2 separate regions of the Homo sapiens genome follow, and region 2 is linked to region 1. Evidence: fine-mapped expression QTL. Tissue or cell type: whole blood. Region 1 holds a variant in brackets; the other region holds the start of a gene. All regions are shown on one strand. Distances are from middle to middle.

Evidence for each region. PIP is the estimated chance that this variant, and not a neighbour inherited with it, causes the effect.
Region 2: it holds the start of BRD3, and the variant in region 1 is fine-mapped to the expression of BRD3 in whole blood (INTERVAL, PIP 0.96).

Annotation. Positions count from the first base shown.
Region 1 is chr9:134,019,167-134,027,255 of GRCh38, forward strand. BRD3OS (BRD3 opposite strand) reads left to right here and starts at 6,315. Exons shown (of 3, transcript NM_001355256.2): 1 at 6,315-6,370; 2 at 6,679-6,924; 3 at 7,042-8,089. The coding sequence starts at 7,582. The coding sequence ends at 7,836. RefSeq lists silencers at 5,749-5,878, 6,189-6,608. The variant T/C (reference allele first, on the strand shown) is at 3,438.
Region 2 is chr9:134,063,478-134,071,551 of GRCh38, forward strand. It overlaps BRD3 (bromodomain containing 3), which reads right to left and starts at 4,549. Exons shown (of 12, transcript NM_007371.4): 1 at 4,468-4,549. RefSeq lists an enhancer at 1-23 and silencers at 3,995-4,244, 4,425-5,154.

The DNA.
Region 1 (8,089 bases):
CAACCTCCACCTCCCGGGTTCAAGCAATTCTCCTGTCCCAGCCTCCCAAGTAGCTGGGATTACAGGTGCCCGCCACCACACCCAGCTAATTTTTGTATTTTTAGTAGAGACAGGGTTTCATCATATTGGTCAGGCTGGTCTCAAACTCCTGACCTCAGGTGACCTGCCCACCTTGGCCTCCCAAAGTACTGAGATTACAGGCGTGAGCCACCGTGCCTGGCCCTTAAAACTTTTTTGAGATAGGGTCTCACTCTGTCGCCAAGGCTGGAGTACAGTGGTGCAACCACAGCTCACTGCAGCCTTGACCTCTCGGGCTCAAGCATTGCTCCCACTTTAGCCTCCCAAGTAACTGGGACTTCAGGTACACACCATCATGCCTGGCTAATTTTTTGTATTTTTATTTAAAAAGGGGTTTTACCATGCTGCCCAGGCTGATCTTGAACTCCTGGGCTCAAGCAATCCACCCGCCTTGGCCTCCCAAAATGTTGGGATTACAGGCATGAGCCAACATGGCTGGCCAGGATTTTATTTTTGGTTTGCAACCTAAAAGGAAGAAGCTGAGGAAAAATTAATGTAAGTAGAGAGTTTATTTGGGCCAAGCTTGAGGGCTGCAACCCGGAGCATGCAAGTTGCCCTGAACATCCACTCCAGTTAGTAGCGGTTACTAGAGGATTTTTAAAGGAAAAGAAGGGGAGTTCCTGAATTGTTTACCAAAAATTTACATTAAAATAACAAGCTATTGATTGGCTATCCATTGTTTTTTATACACATATTCCAGGAACATGAAGACAATGGGTGGGGCAGCTAGACAGGAACAAAAAGACTTTTTTTTTTCCTTTGAGACGCAGTCTGTCTCTGTTGCCCAGGCTGGAGTGCAGTGGCGCAATCTCAGCTCACTGCAACCTCCGCCTCCCGGGCTCAAGCGATTCTCCTGCCTCAGCCTCCCCAGTAGCTGGGATTACAGGCACCCACCACTACGCCTGGTTAATTCTTTGTATTTTTAGTAGAGACAGGGTTTCACTATGTTGGCCAGGCTGGTCTCCAACTCCTGACCTCGTGATCCACCCGCCTCAGCCTCCCAAAGTGCTAGGATTACAGGTGTGAGCCACCTCGCCCAGCCCTGTCTTATTAATTTTAATAATTTGTCTGAGATTCTCCTGAATTTGTACTGTTAATTGAAAAAAGAACCCCACAATATCCATAAATACTCTGTTGCCCAGGCTGGAGTACAGTGATGCAATCATGACTCGCTGCGACCGCTGCCTCCTGGGCTCAAGCAACCCTCCTGCCTCAGCCTCCCAGGTAGCTGGGACTATAGGTGCCTTTCACCATGCCCAGGTACTTTTTGTAGAAATGGGGTTTTGCCATGTTGGCCAGGCTGGTCTTGAACTCCTGAGTTTAAGTGATCTGCCCGCCTTGGCCTCCCAAATTGCTGGGACTACAGGTGTGAGCCACTGCGCCTGGGTGACTTTCTTTCTCATAAAGGGTTACAGCCAGCAAGGTGGCCATCCCACAGGCTGGAAAATGTGCCTCTGAAGGAGGAGGGGTTGGGGCAGGAGCTCCATGCTGAACAGGTTGGCTAAACATACACATTCAACAGGTTATAGGAGGAGCTATGAATATTCATGAAGGTCCTGACAACATGCATACTGAACAAACATGCATGTAACATACAACTCATGTTCACCTTGGGGTGGAGACTTAGCATCAAAATGTACTAAAATTAGGCCTTATAGGCTGGGTGCAGTGGCTCGCGCCTGTAATCCCAGCACTTTGGGAGGCTGAGGTCTGGCCAATACGGTGAAACCCAGTCTCTACTAAAAATAAAAAAAAAACTAGCTGGGCACCGTGGTGCACACCTGTAGTCTTAGCTACTTGGGAGGCTGAGGCAGGAGAATCACTTGAACCCAGGAGGCGGAGGTTGCAGTGAGCCGAGATGGCACCACAGCACTCCAGCCTGGGCAATAGTGGGAGACTCCGTCTCAAATAAATAAAAATATATACATACATAAAATAAAATTAGGCCTTATAGTAAAAAGGTCTTTCCAGGACACAAAAGCACACAAGTATGCAGCCTCTCTGAACCAGCCGGAACCAATCCATAGTCAGTGGTCTTACCTGGAGAAAGTTGCTGAAATCAGTCTCTTGTTCAATGAAAGCTGTAGTTGGCTGGGCATAGTGGCTCACACCTGTAGTCCCAGCACTTTGGGAGGCCACGATGGGAGGATTGTTTAAGCCCAGGAATTTGAGATCAGCCTAGGCAACATGGCAAAACCCCATCTCTACCAAAAATACAAAAAGTAGCTGGGTGCAAACTCCACCTCCCGGGTGGACCTACTGGTACACCTAGTGGTGCACACCTGTAGGCCCAGCTACTTGGGAGGCTGAGGTGGGAGGATTGCTTGAGGCTGGGAGGTTGAAGCTGCACTCAGCCAGGATTGCACCACTGCACTCTAGCCTGGAGGACAGAGTGAGACGCTGTTTCAAAAGAAGAGAAAGCTAGTTATGGTGGGTGAATGGGGTCAGTTAGCATCTGGAGCTGGATGAGCTGCAAATCGTTTTAACATTGTTTATCTTGAGGTCAGTACTTACTTAGCTGCTAGAGAAAAGGAACAACCTCGTGGCAGTGAGAATAGAGTTTATTCTTTAATTGTAGAGGTGTAGGACTTAACTTGTGCCTGGCATGGCCCTAAATCTTATTAATTAATTAATTTATTTATTTTTGGAATCAGAGTCTCACTTTGTCACCCAGACTGGAGTGCAGTTGTGCCATCTTGGCTCACTGCAACCTCCACCTCCTGGGTTCAAGTGGTTTTCCTGCCTCAGCCTCCCAAGTAGCTGGGATTACAGGCATGCGCCACTATGTCCAGCTAATTTTTGTATTTTTTGTAGAGATGGGGGTTCACCATGTTGGCCAGGCTGGTCTCGAACTCTCAGCCTCAAGTGATCTGCCCGCCTTGGACTCTCAAAGTGCTGGGATTACAGATGTGAGTCACCATGCCCAGCCACAGGTCTTATTTATAATTTGGTATGTTATCGCCATAAAGAGTCTGTTTTTCAGTCTTCTATGTTTTCAGTCTTACATATTTTAACGCAAATGCTAGTGCCTTGTCTCTAAGTCACCAAAGGGAGGAGTTATAACGACATGAGTGGGCTCTCCTATCCCATCGTGGCTGGGAACTCAGTTTTAAGTTTTTTCTGAGGTCCCCTTGGCCAAGAGGGGATCCGTTCAGTCAGTGAGGAGTTTAGGATTTTATTTTTAGTTTATATTCCCTTCTTTTGGCCAAGATTTGCCAGAGATGGCATTGATGACCAAACTTTTATTTTGTCCTATATCGTTGCTGGGGCTGTGTGCTACCTGCACTGGGTCCATCTTGTCCCTTGGTGGGATCCCTATGGCCAAGAGACTTAGAGCCAAAAGACTGAAAGACAGCTAA[T/C]TAAATGTTTTAGGACAGATAGGAAAGGAGATGGGCAGGCACTCATTCACCCTTAAAAACCTTTTGTGCAGCCAGGTGCGGTGGCTTATGCCTGTAATCCTAGCACTTTGGGAGTCTGAGGCGGGTGGATCACGAGGTCAGGAGTTTGAGACCAGCCTGATCAACATAGTGAAACCCTGTCTCCACTAAAAATACAAAATGAGCCAGGCATGGTGGCACATGCCTGTAACCCTAGCTACTCGGGAGGCTGAGGCAGGAGAATCACTTGAACCTGGGAGGCGGAGGTTGCAGTGAGCTGAGATTGCACCATTGTACTCCGGTCTGGGCGACAGAGCGAGATTCCATCTCAAAAAAATCAAAATAAAACAAACAACAACAACAACAAAAAACAACCTTTTGTGCAACATAAGAGGCAAAAACCAAAATCCAAAACGTGAGGTTACAAAATTGACTTATCTCTAAGTTTTATGTATTGAGCTATCAGCTATTTAGGTATTTGTGAACCATCTTTGATTCAGAGGGTCTGAACAAATTTTATCCCTCGAAACCAGCCCTTACAATCTCATGCGTTTACCTCTTCTGCAATTGTCCCTGGGCCTAGAGGGAGGGTGTTTGATATCAAATCAGATTGGAGCCAATGGGATTTTAAATCATTTTCAGATTCTGGAGATATCAGGTAGAAAAAGAGAGGTAATCTTCATTTTTTACTTAATTGTTGTAGCTATAAAATAGCTTAAAAGGAAAAACAGCTTTTTGACTCTGGAAAACAAAACATAAGTAAATGTTTCGAACAGAAATATAAGTCCTATTTGGTTTTGACAACGACAGGAAAAGGAAGCTTACAGGTAACTAAATATTCAAATTATTTAGTTCAAGGCATAGAACAAATTATATTAGCTTAGAGGCAATTTTTTTTTTTTTTTTTTGAGATGGGGTCTCACTCTGTCACCCAAGCTGGAGTGCAATGGTGCAATCTCAGCTCACTGCAACCTCCGCCTCCTGGGTTCAAGAGATTCTCCTGCCTCAGCCTCCTGAGTAGCTGGGATTACAGGCGCCTGCCACCACACTGGGCTAATTTTTTATATTTTTGGTAGAGACAGGGTTTCATCATGTTGGCTAGGCTGGTCTCGAACTCCTGACCTCAAGTGATGTGACCGCCTAGGCCTCCCAAAGTGCTGGGATTACAGGCGTGAAAACCGCACCCAGCCAGATAGAGGTAAAAGTGTTAAATGGGTCTTTGAATACAGGCCTGTTCTTGTGTCTCTTGAAAGCAGTATAACTTCGGTTGCTGTCTTTTCCCAGGTCGGAAGACTGGGAGATCATGTAAGATTTAAACGTTTTCAAATTTGTTGAAACTGATTTATGGTCCAGCATGTGATCAGTTTTGCTAAACGTCCTGTGTAGGTACTTGTGAAGAAAGTGCGAGGCAGGCGGATCACAAGGTCAGGAGTTCGAGACCAGCCTGGCCAATATGGTGAAACCCTGTCTCTACTAAAAATACAAAAATTAGCTGGGCGTGGTTGCCGGCGCCTGTAGTCCCAGCTACTCAGGAGGCTGAGGCAGGAGAATCGCTTGAACCTGGGGGGCGGAGGTTGCAGTGAGCTGAGATCGTGCCACCACACTCCACCCTGGGTGACAGAGTGAGATTCCCTTTCAAAAAAAAAAAAAAAAAGAATGTGCGTTCCACAGCTGTGGGCTTAGTGCTCACACTAAGCATCTTCCTTGGATGTCTGTTATGCTTATTTTCTTTTTTTTTAGAGATGGGGTTTTGCTGTTTCGTCCCAGCTGAAGTGCAGTGGCATGATTATGGCTCACTGCAGCCTCGAACTCCTGGCTCAAGGGATCCTCCTGCCTCAGCCTCCCAAGTAGGTGGGACTCAGAGGTGAGCCACCACACCAGGTTCCATTATGCTAGTTTTCTTAATTGGCATTGGAGAAAACCATAAAATTAGGGGAAAAGGGTAGATACTAAAAGAGTGCTATTGGAGTATGATTGGAGGTGGAGTGAGAAAAGGAAATAGACCTTGCTTTCATGGGGCTGTTGAGGAGTCCAAATGAGCAGTATAGAGGCCTGGCTTGGTTGGATGAGATGGAGAAATTCAAGACCTATTTTTGAGATAGTAAGCCCGGACATTTAATTAATTAAAAATAATTGTATCAATTACTGAGAGTAAGAATACTAATAAAAGCAGTAACAGCAGTGGCAAAAGTAACCACACAAGCAGAAATACGAAAACCAAGATGATAAGACCATACAGTCCGGCAGTGTCTTACTAACAGGGTTGTGGGCGTCCCACTCCTTCTCTTCATCCTCCTCCAGCTCCTCCTCCACGTCTTCCTCCAGCTCCTGCTCCTCTTTCTTTTCCAGTACCTCCTCAGCCCCTTCTCCTCTGCCAGCCCCTCCTCCCACCTCCGCTCCCAGCCCCTCCTCCTTTCCCAGCCCCTCACCATCCAGCCCCTCCTCCTCCATCTCCTCCTCCTCTCTCAGCTCCTCCTCCTCCCCCAGCTCCTCCTCCTGCTCCTCCTTCTCCTCCACTCCTCCTTCTGCTCCTCCTTCTCGTTCAGCTCCTCCTCTCCCAGCCCCTCCTCCTCCTCCAGCCCCTCCTCCTCATCCAGCCCTTTCTCCTCTCCCAGCCCCTCCTCTCCCAGCTCCTCCTCCTCCTCCCTCCTCCTCCTCCAGCCCCTCCTCCTCCAGCCCCTCCTCCTCCAGCCCCTCCTCCTCCTCTTCCAGTTCCTATTCGGGGCGGGCCCAGCCCCTCCTCGCGGAGCGATCGATGGCTTGGGCTCGTCGCACACGCCTGCCCAGCCTCTGCGCTCGGCTCGCCAGGCCTGCGGCGCTGCCATGGAGACACGGCCCAGCGGCCGCCGGCCCCGCCCTGGGAGCCCCGCAGTGCGTCGCGCCGCTGCCCGCATCTCCGAGGCCCGCGACGAGCGGTGACTGGGGCGGGCGACGTGGGGGACCCGGGGATGCGGGCAGACGATAGGGGGCTGGAGGATGGGGCGACCCAGAGCGCGCGGGGTCTGGGGCGCGGGGATGGGGGCCGCGGGCCACGCGACGGGGACCCCAGGGTGCGCGCAGGTGGCGGGGACGCGCGATGGGGGCCCGGGAAGCTGAGGCTGACCTAGCGCAGGCATCCCAGGAGGGGAGGTCCCTGACGCTGCGCAGCTGGGAAGGCGTTCGGGAGTGGGTTGCGATGCTTCCCTGTTTGTTTTCTCCTGACATCGTTTTTGTTTGGGTCCAGGGGCCTCACGGGAGCTGGATGCTCGGAGCAGCAAGGCGGCCCTGGGGGCCCCTTCCGGTCCCGGGGCTGACGCCTGGCGGCGTCTCCGGGAACCCGCGCCCTTTCAAGCGCCGCTGGCTCCTGTTTCACAGATGGAGACCCTGAAGCCCCAACAAGCAGCCTCCCCAGCACCTCCCAGTGACTGAAAAAGCTGGCACTGGGCGCCCGTCTCACTCTCCACCCAGCTCCCAGGCTGCCCCACGGGACGTAAGTAGCTCGATCTAGGCCGCTGACCCCCAGAGACTTGATGCTGCGCTGCAGACTGCCGCCGCTGCCGGGGCGCTTGACTTCCCCTCTCCTGACAGCACGTTCGTTCCTTTGCAGCAGCACCTTTGGGGAGAGACGAGACCTGAACAAACGCTGGGGCTGGATCCCCAGGGTGGGTCAGAACAGCCGTTGCCCTGAAAGCTGGCCCGGACAGATGCGTGCGGGGCGTGCCACCGGAGCTCCTTCCAGCTTGCGTCTGGGGCCACCATGTCCCTTCCTCAGGGCACTGGATCCATCTCTTCAAGCTCAGTGGTCCAGGCCATGGTGGCAGAATCACCCCCCAGGGTGTGACGCCTCGTCCCTGTCAATTCCACACAGCTGCACCCGGAAGAGCTGTGGCCGGGCGCCGCTCTGACCTGTGTGCGGTCCCCTGAATGGGTCTCAGGTGTCTTCAGAATGGTGAGGCCGCCTCATTTCCTCACCACACAACCCTCCTGAGGACGTTGCCTGCAAATGGGCGGAATTCCTAATTTCTACCATTCAGTTAAACGAGGGATCCTTAAGCCCCAAAGCTGGGAAAGCTGTCCGTTAATTTAGTGCGCGTGGGCCGTCTCAGAACAGCAGGGTTCCCAGGAGTCCAGCGGGACGGGGGAGGGGATGAGTGGCCGTGTCCCCCTGGCAGAGAAGGCCTTGTCTGAAGGCTACGCCCGCCTCCGGTACAGGGACACCTCCTTGCTCATCTGGCAGCAGCAACAGCAGAAGTTGGAGTCGGTGCCACCTGGGACGTACCTGAGCAGGAGCCGAAGCATGTGGTACTCACAGTATGGAAATGAGGCCATCTTGGTCCGAGACAAAAACAAGCTCGAGGTCTCTAGGGACACAGGGCAGTCCAAGTTTTGCACAATTATGTAATTCCGATGTGAGCACCTGAACCCAGGACCACACTTTGAGGAAAACAGACCTGAGTTTCATTCAGTTGTCTTGTTGATTTCCAATCCTTGCTGGAAGATTTTGAATAATGAACGTGAAGATCAAACTGTGGTGTAAGAACCCAAGAAGCGCAGAATTGGCCCCCGAACCCCTCAGCACAGCCGCGGTGTGACTGGTGCACAGGACACTTCCCCTCTAGAGTCCCCTCCGTGGTCAGCTGTTGTGACATTTGAAT
Region 2 (8,074 bases), 44 kb after region 1:
TCCAGTGACGCATGGCACAGGGAGGGCATCCTCTCAGCCGCTTATAGTAGATTCTTCCTTCTGCCACATGACAGGTTATAGCTACAATACTCAGCACTCCTGCAGGGGCCGGGCACCTCACACAGATGCATCTGTGCCTCATCTCGGTCAGTGCTCACACGGAGGCTAAGGCCGTCCCGCCCCAGAGTCCCACAGCTCCCAGGTACCGACTCTTAGTCCCAGGTCCTCACAGGTGCACTGAGGGCACTCCCTCTGCCCCAGACTCCAGGCCTGGCCAGCAGCCGCCTCTGCAGATCACACCCGAGTCCACTGGGTGCTTTGCAAAATGCTGCAGCTGGTTATCAAGCCACACTCAGAAAGATCCAGCCGGCGACTCCTGAACATCACTGCACCCTCAGCGGGACACTTTTCCAAGTGGCTGGAAAAGTTGTCTCCCACAATACCGGATTAACTTCTGACGAACTCAGTACCTTGGGGGCCTGCGGCAAGGAGGGGGGCGGGGGCATGTTCCACGCCCCATCTTCCCAACACCAGGCTCCGAAGGCCCTGTGAGGAGGCAGCCTGCGAACTGACTCTCAGGGAACAGCCACAGACTGGTGCGAGACGCAGACAGCCAACAGCACGGACACAACAGGGTCCGAGCCTCCAGCCACACGCACAGGTCCTGGCTCCACTGCGAGCTCAATCAGGAGTGGCCAGAAGACTTACAATTTAAACCACCAACAGGTGAATGGCCCAAAGTGACACTTTCTCTTTAAAAGAGCTCTCGGTCAGGCATGGTGGCTCACACCTGTAATCTCAGCACTTTGGGAGGCTGAGATGGGTGGATCACCTGAGGTCAGGAGTTCAAGACCAGCCCGGCCAACATGGCGAAACCCCATCTTTACTAAAAAATTAAAAAAAATTAAAAAAAATAGCCAGGCGTGGTGGCGGGCACCTGTAATCCCAGCTACTTGGCAGGCTGAGCCAGGGAGAATTGCTTGAACCCAGGAGGTGGAGGTTGCAGTGAAGGGAAATCATGCCATTACACACCAGCCTGGGCAACAGAGTGATACTCTGTCTCAAAATAAGTAAATAAATAAATGAGCTCTCAAGCATCTTGGCCGAGCATGGTGGCTCACGCTTGTAATCCCAGCACTTCAGGAGGCAGAGACGGGTGGGTCACTCACGGCCAAGAGTTTGAGACCAGCCTGGCCAACATGGTGAAACGCCATCTCTACTAAAAATACAAACAAACAAACAAATAAGCAAGCCCTCAAGCCTCTCAGATGGCAGGAGCCCAGGAACCAGAGCAGGGAGGCCCGGGCACAGGGGCCCATGATGTCTGTGCCCATGATTTCACAGGAAGGAGAATAGGCAAAGAAAACCCTATGCTCCGCCACCAGCTGGGCACCTCTACAAGGTGGCAGTACCAACAAAAACACAGGAGCAAGGCCATTCTTGGCAAACGCTGACCCAAATGCACCTGGCACCCCATCATGCTTTGCTACCTGTGCATCTCTTCTGCTCCAACAAGGGGGCGGAGCCACAGGGGTCGGGAAGGCCCAAGGCAGACCCGCAAGTTCCAAAACCTTTTACGGCAAGAAGCCTTGCATTCTACCATGATTCATCCAGTTACCTTCTAGCTTCAACCAGATACTGGCTTCGTGATATAAGGGACCTGCTGGCTAGGCACGGTGGCTCATGCCTGTAATCCCAGCACTTTGGGAGGCCAAGGCAGGTGGATCACGAGGTGAGGAGTTCGAGACCAGCCTGTCCAACACAGTGAAACCCTGTCTCTACTAAAAATACAAAAAATTAGCTGGGCGTGGTGGCGGACGCCTGTAATCCCAGCTACTTGGGAGGCTGAAGCAGGAGAATTGCTAGAACCCGGGAGGTAGAGGTTACAGTGGGCTGAGATCGTGCCACTGCACTCCAGCCTGGGCAACAATGCGAGACTCCATCTCAAGAGGAGAAGAGAAAAAAAAAAAAAAAGGAACCTGCCTAGGACAGGAACCCCGTCAGGTCAGTTATACTTTGATGACCGGTCAAGGAAGCAAGAGGAGGATCCTCTGACCAACTGCGTTAACTGCTTTGAAAACCAAGAGACCCGCAGCACGACTTCAGGCATGCCCCCACCTCCCAGGCAGCAACGCTGGGAAGAGTAGGCCCCGGTTCCCCATACCCCGCCCCGGTACCGTGTGTATCCACAGCAAAACATGGCTCTTCCCATCGACAACTGGGCATAGCTGTTGGTTTTGTGCCAATCACCCCACTTGGGAAACCCTGAGCCACCATGCCTCAGGGAAAGTGGTGGCACTTCCTGGTGGCACCAGGAATCGCACAAGGCCATCACTGCCGCCTGGTGCACAGGGCTCCCGCGGCTGGCATCTCCAGAGCCTGGAGGAAGAGGGTAGAGGAAGGTAGCACCGGCTGCAGCAGGCCTGGCTGCTTCGCTCTGCACACCCCCACTTTCACTTTCTGGGTATGACTACTTCGGAGTGTAGGGCAGGCACTGTTTGCAAGTCCCGTCCTTCATTCAAAGCTCACTCACTTCCGAAGCAGGCGCGAGCTGTTGTCAAAGGAAAGTAATTACTCTACTTTCTAAAAACAAAACAAAAATAAAAATGGAGTGACTGCCCACTCGGAGAAAGCTTTTGAAATCCCTCCTCCCCGGATGTCCCAACGGCAGGGCTCAGGCTGGAGCTGCTCCCACAGTCTTTCCAGGCACCCGGTGCCCTGCTGAGGCACCGGGCCTCTGAGGCTACCCGGAAGGTCAGAAAGAAATGCCCCTCGCTCGCCTGCAGCCCGTCCTGTTACAGCGTGTGCCTTATCTTTCATGATCAGTAACCACCAGCACCCATCAAGGCCTCAACAGAGAAAACGGCAAACACAGACCTTTATTTGCAAATGAGAGGCTGCATCAGGGCTGCCAGGGAAGAACCCGGAGGGAGGGCTCCCTAACCCCCGAGGCCAGCCCCTTGCAGGGGTTCAGACCTTCCTTAGACCCCGTTGGAAGCCAGTAACAAACTACTTTCCCCAGAAAAATGCCATACAACTTTGCATAGATTCCAGGATCTCCCCAGGCATACTACATGGACCCAGGAAAAAAAAAAAACCCTCCATTTTAAAGAAAAGAGTAAGGGGAAAAGCCTACAAAAGAGCAGGGTAAAAAGAAAACTCTTTTCCTCTTCTGTTCCTTCTCACAGGGTAGGGCGGGGGAGGACGGGACACACGAAGCTGCCTCTTGCAGTTCCAGCCCAATTACTCTGCCCACCAATGCACTACAGTCTCCCCTCCTGGTTAACTTTTGCAGACAATGACCAAGTTTAATGTAAGGGGGAGAAATCCCAGTATCTATTTCTGAGCAGAAAGCTTTCAACCAAAATTAAAGATCGCAACCACTCAAGGATTGGGTCGAACGGAGGAACCCACACGATGGACGCCGGGTCCCTGCCCCCGGTGGGTCTCGGCGGGCCGAGTTCTCGCCCTCCAGGGAAAGGAGGCCGCGCGAAGCCCCCATCCCGGCCCTGCCCCCGAACGAGCAACCGGTGGAATAAGACTTCCCGCACGCCCCAGCTTTATTCACAGAGAGCCCACCAGGGCCATGTGGGTGTACACGGTTCGGGGTGCGCATTTCTCCCCGGATGGGCTTGTATCACGTTGTCACTCCGGCGCCCCCCAAAAGTGGGAAGGAGGGGAAGCACCCCCGTCCCTCCCGCTCCAACTCGCCCTCGCCCGGATTAAGCGATTTTCAGGCTGATTTCAAAACGGGAACTGGGTCTCCCCCTGGTTTGGGTGCAATAATCCGGCAACTCAGGGGGGCTCAAAGTCAGCTCTGGGCCCGTAACTCTGGGAGGAGGCCGCGCAGAGCCCAGGGCCGAGCCCGGCCTTGCCCCCCGCCCCGGCCGCGGCGCGCGGCGACGGTCCCCAGGCGCGGGCCCCAGCAACGGCTCGGGAGCGAGGCCGGCGGAACAGGCGCGGGGAAAGTGGCCCCGCGGAGCGCACGGCCGCAGGCCGGGGCCGCCGCGCGCACCTTCCCCCTCCGCGTCCTCCCTGGGTTCCCCCTTCGAAAGATGGCGGGCGGAGGAAAGGGGGAAAAAAATCCCTTCCGTGAGGGAGGGCGCGCGGAGGCCGGGCTGGCGCGGGGCGCGCGGGCCGCGCCAACTCCGGGCTGCGCGCCCCGGCCGCAGCGACGCCCCGAGTCCGGGACGGAGGCGGCCAAGCGGGAGCGGGAGGAGGGGAGCGGAGCCCGCGCCACCGCCGCCGCCACCGCCGCCGCGACCCCGGGCGGCCGCCGCGCTTTGTTGCATCGTGGCCGCGCACAAAGGCGGCGGCGGCGGCGGCGGCCCCGGGCGCCCGGTTCACCCGGACGCGCCGGCGGACTGCGCGGGGCGCTCGGGGCCGCGCTCCCCGGCCCAGCCCGGCCCGCCGCCGCCCGCGCCGCCCGCCGCCCCGCGCGCGCAAGGAAGCAAGAGAAAGGCGTACTTGGCCTCGCGGCTCCGGCGGCCGTCCCCTCCCGGCCCGCGCGGCCGGCTCCTCTTTGGCTCGCCGGCCCCGGCAGCATAATAGACGCGCCGGAGCCGAGCAGGGCTCATGCGCTGCGCCGCGGCGCCTGGCGGGAGTCGTAGTCCGCGGCCGGGCCCGCGCCGGGGCCGCCCAGGGGAGGCCGCGGGCGCGCGGACTACATGTCCCGGCCCCGCCGGCGCCGCGCCCCGCCCCGGGGGCCCCCGCCCGCCCCGCCGACCCGGCCGAGAGCGGGCCTGGCCCGGGGGGCGCGCGGGGGCGGGGCTCGGCGCCCGCCCGGCAGGGCAACAACGCTGGGACCCCGTGGGCCGTTCCCCGCCCGGGCCCGCACGGCTCTCCTCACCCCGTGTCGGGGACAGCGCCTGGCGGCGGATTTTCCGGTGCCCCAGGACGGCATGGAAGAAGCGGGCACGCAGCCAGCACCGCAGCCCCCGTCCGGGCACCCCGAGGCCCGCGGGAGCCACCCTCGAACCCCGGCCGCGCACGGGCGGGGCGGCGCGCACCTGCCGGGAGCCCGTGTTTGTAAACAAACCGCGCGCCTAATTAGCCTGGCGGGAGCGCGCGCGCGGGGCGGGGGGCGGGGCGTCGGTGCGCGCGGGCAGGTCGGCCCCGCCCGGGGAGGAGCCGCGCTCTGCCGCGCCCTCCGTGTCACCATCTCCCCCACCCGACTTGCTGGGGCGCGGGCGCCCAAGTTCGCTGTTGCTGGAGAGGGCGCCAAGTCCCCAGAGCTGGCGAAGAGTTAGGGGTGCTCCCAGCTCTGCCTGGGGACCTTCTCGCCCCAAGCCCCGGTTTCCCCATCTGCCCAGTGAGGGGCGGGAACTAGATACCAGGTTCCCAGCCTGAGATTCCGGGAGAGGGCCACCCCTGGCCCTTTTTCTGTATCTTGAAAGGTTCAGCCCGTGGACACGTTTTGCATCTTGTTTTGGGTGATGACGACTCGGGTTTACACATAAATCAAGTTGTGGGGGGGGGGGTTTTGTTGTTTTTTTGGTTTTTGTTTTTTTTTTTTTTTTTTGAGACGTTAGTTTCGCTCTTGTCACCCAGGCTGGAGTGCTGTAGTGTAGTGAGTGGCTCGATCTCGGCTCACTGCAACGTCCGCCTCCCGGGTTCAAGCCATTCTCCTGGCTCAGCCTCCCGAGTAGCTGAGATTACAGGCACCCGCCACCACGCCCGGCTAATTTTTGTATTTTTTAGTAGAGATGGGGTTTCACCGTGTTGACTGGGCTGTTCTCAAACTCCTGACGTGAGATGATCCGCCCACCGCGGACTCCCAAAGTGCTGGGATTACAAGCGTGAGCCAACGCACCCGGCCACATAAATCAATTTTAATCCAGCTGTAACTTAAGGTGGTTACACGTTGTGTACATTAGACCCCAATAAAAACGTCAAAAACAAAACGAGGTTCCTTGGTGCCTGCTGAACCTGCCAACTGCAAGGTCGAGTTTCCTTGTGTGGGCTGCACCCACCCCAAGCCCCTGGGGTCCCCAGGTGTGTTCCAAGTTGAGCAGCAGCTCCACTGCCTGAAATGCACACATCTATGCAATATTCACAAAGTGAGTGCCAGCACAGAGACAATTCATCCCCATGCTCACCCAGAAGGCAGGTGTTCTGTTCCAGGCTGACAGGTAAGGAAACAGGCTCAGTGAGGCAAAGGGTCCTGCCCAAGGTCACAGAGCCAATTTGCAGGACGGCTGAGACCCAAAGCCCCGGGGTCTTAGGAAGAGTTTGCAGGGGAAGCCAACACCTTTCCCAATCCTGTCCCTCTGTTTCTGCTGGGAGCCCAGGACCTTCTCACACTCCAGGGCAAGGCTCTAGGACGAGGTTCCAGCCTTGCCTTTCTAGTTGGCAAAATGGACAAAGTGCAGTCCTCAGGCGCAGGAAGGTCGGGGAGGGGGAATATGAGAGGTGAGGATCTGCAGGCAGTTCCCTTAGAACTACCATCCTGGTTGTGTCCCCAAACCCCCGGTGCAGTTCCTCAACCTACAGGCTTCTGTGTTAGCCACCTTGGAGGCTGCAACCCATTCCTGCTGTCTGCATCTCATCTCCTTGGGTATCTTGAGCACTCTGACCACCAGGATGGCCACCTCACCACTTACACAGACCCCACTGCACTCCTCCCAAGGCTAGAACAAAAAGCCTTTCCGCCTGGTCTTGACCTCAAGGAACCCAGGTACATGCACACAGCAGGCTGCCCTGACCAGCCAGCGTGTCTGAGGCTGCTGACCAAATGCCCCCAACCCTTATGGGCCTCCCACTGCCCTAAGGTGACCCCCAGGAGTATGGCAGGAACCCAGGCGCTCCCTGGGCACTGGCTCTGATGGAAGCACCAAGGTCCCCTTCTTTCCCTTCCCGCTGCTCACCCACACATGAGTGGCCCGGATGGCTCCATGGAGCCAACTTTCCCGAGGCTGGAGAAGTCTCTAGGAAGCAGAATCTGTAAGGGAACAGGACAGAAACTCTCATTTGAGCATCTCAGCCCCTGTGCTACTATCTCTGAAGACTAGTTTAGGGGCCACAGTGGCAAACAGCTGAAAGCCAGCAGGGCTGCCATTGAGAAGGGATTTGGGGTGGCTCTGCAGTCCCCTCCAGCCCCTAGCAGCCCATCATCCTCTCCCTTCCTGCTCAGGCTCTTGGAATTTTAACCTCTGGTACTGCTGAATTTCCCAAGTGAAGCCACTTAATCTCCCCGACCCAGGTTTCCTCCCCTGTCACAGGAGGATAAAAATAGAACCTGATCCCGCAGCTCTGGTAAGGGAGGGGGGCATGTGCAAAGGTTGGGGCTGTGATCAGGAGCAGGCTGCTGCCTTTGCCTCCTTGGCCATCACTCACCTCTCTACCTTCACGTTTTACTTCCTGAGCCTCCTTGTGGGCTGTCTCACGGCTCCATGAGAGCAGAGCACTTTGTCCATGAGGTATCCCTAAACATCCTTCAACAGTATCTGGCACCTAGTGGGTGCTCAATACATAGTTGTTGAATGAATAAATGTTCTCTTCTGCACCTCTGTCCTGCCCTCCAGCCTCCATCTGCAAACCTCAGTGTAGCCCAAGCTCTACCAGTGAAGCAGCCACCTGCTCACATCTAAAGGAGGACCCAGAGCCAGGCTCCAGCCAGTACAGGAGCCAGGGCCTCAGCTGCCTCCTCCTCCTTCACCCACAATGCCCCTTAAGGCAGCAGTCCCCAGCCTTTTTGGCAACAGGGACCAGTTTCATGGAAGACAATTTTTCCACGGATGAGTGGGGGCAGATAATGGTTTTGGCATGAAACTGTTCCGCCTCAGATCATCAGGCATTAGATTCTCATAAGGAGCTCACAACCTAGATCCCTCACGTGCGCAGTTCAGAGTACGGTTTGCGCTCCTGTGAGAATCTGATGCAGCTGCTGATCTGACAGGAGCCGGAGCGCAGGCGGGAATGCTGGCTCACAAGTACTCACCTCCTGCTGTGTGGCCCCGTTCCTAACAGGCCACGGACCAGTAACAGTCCAAGGCCCAGGGGTTGGGAATCCTGCCTTAAGGCGCAGAGCAGTTACATCATGGCACTGAAGTTTATACATCAGTTTCTTGAAAGT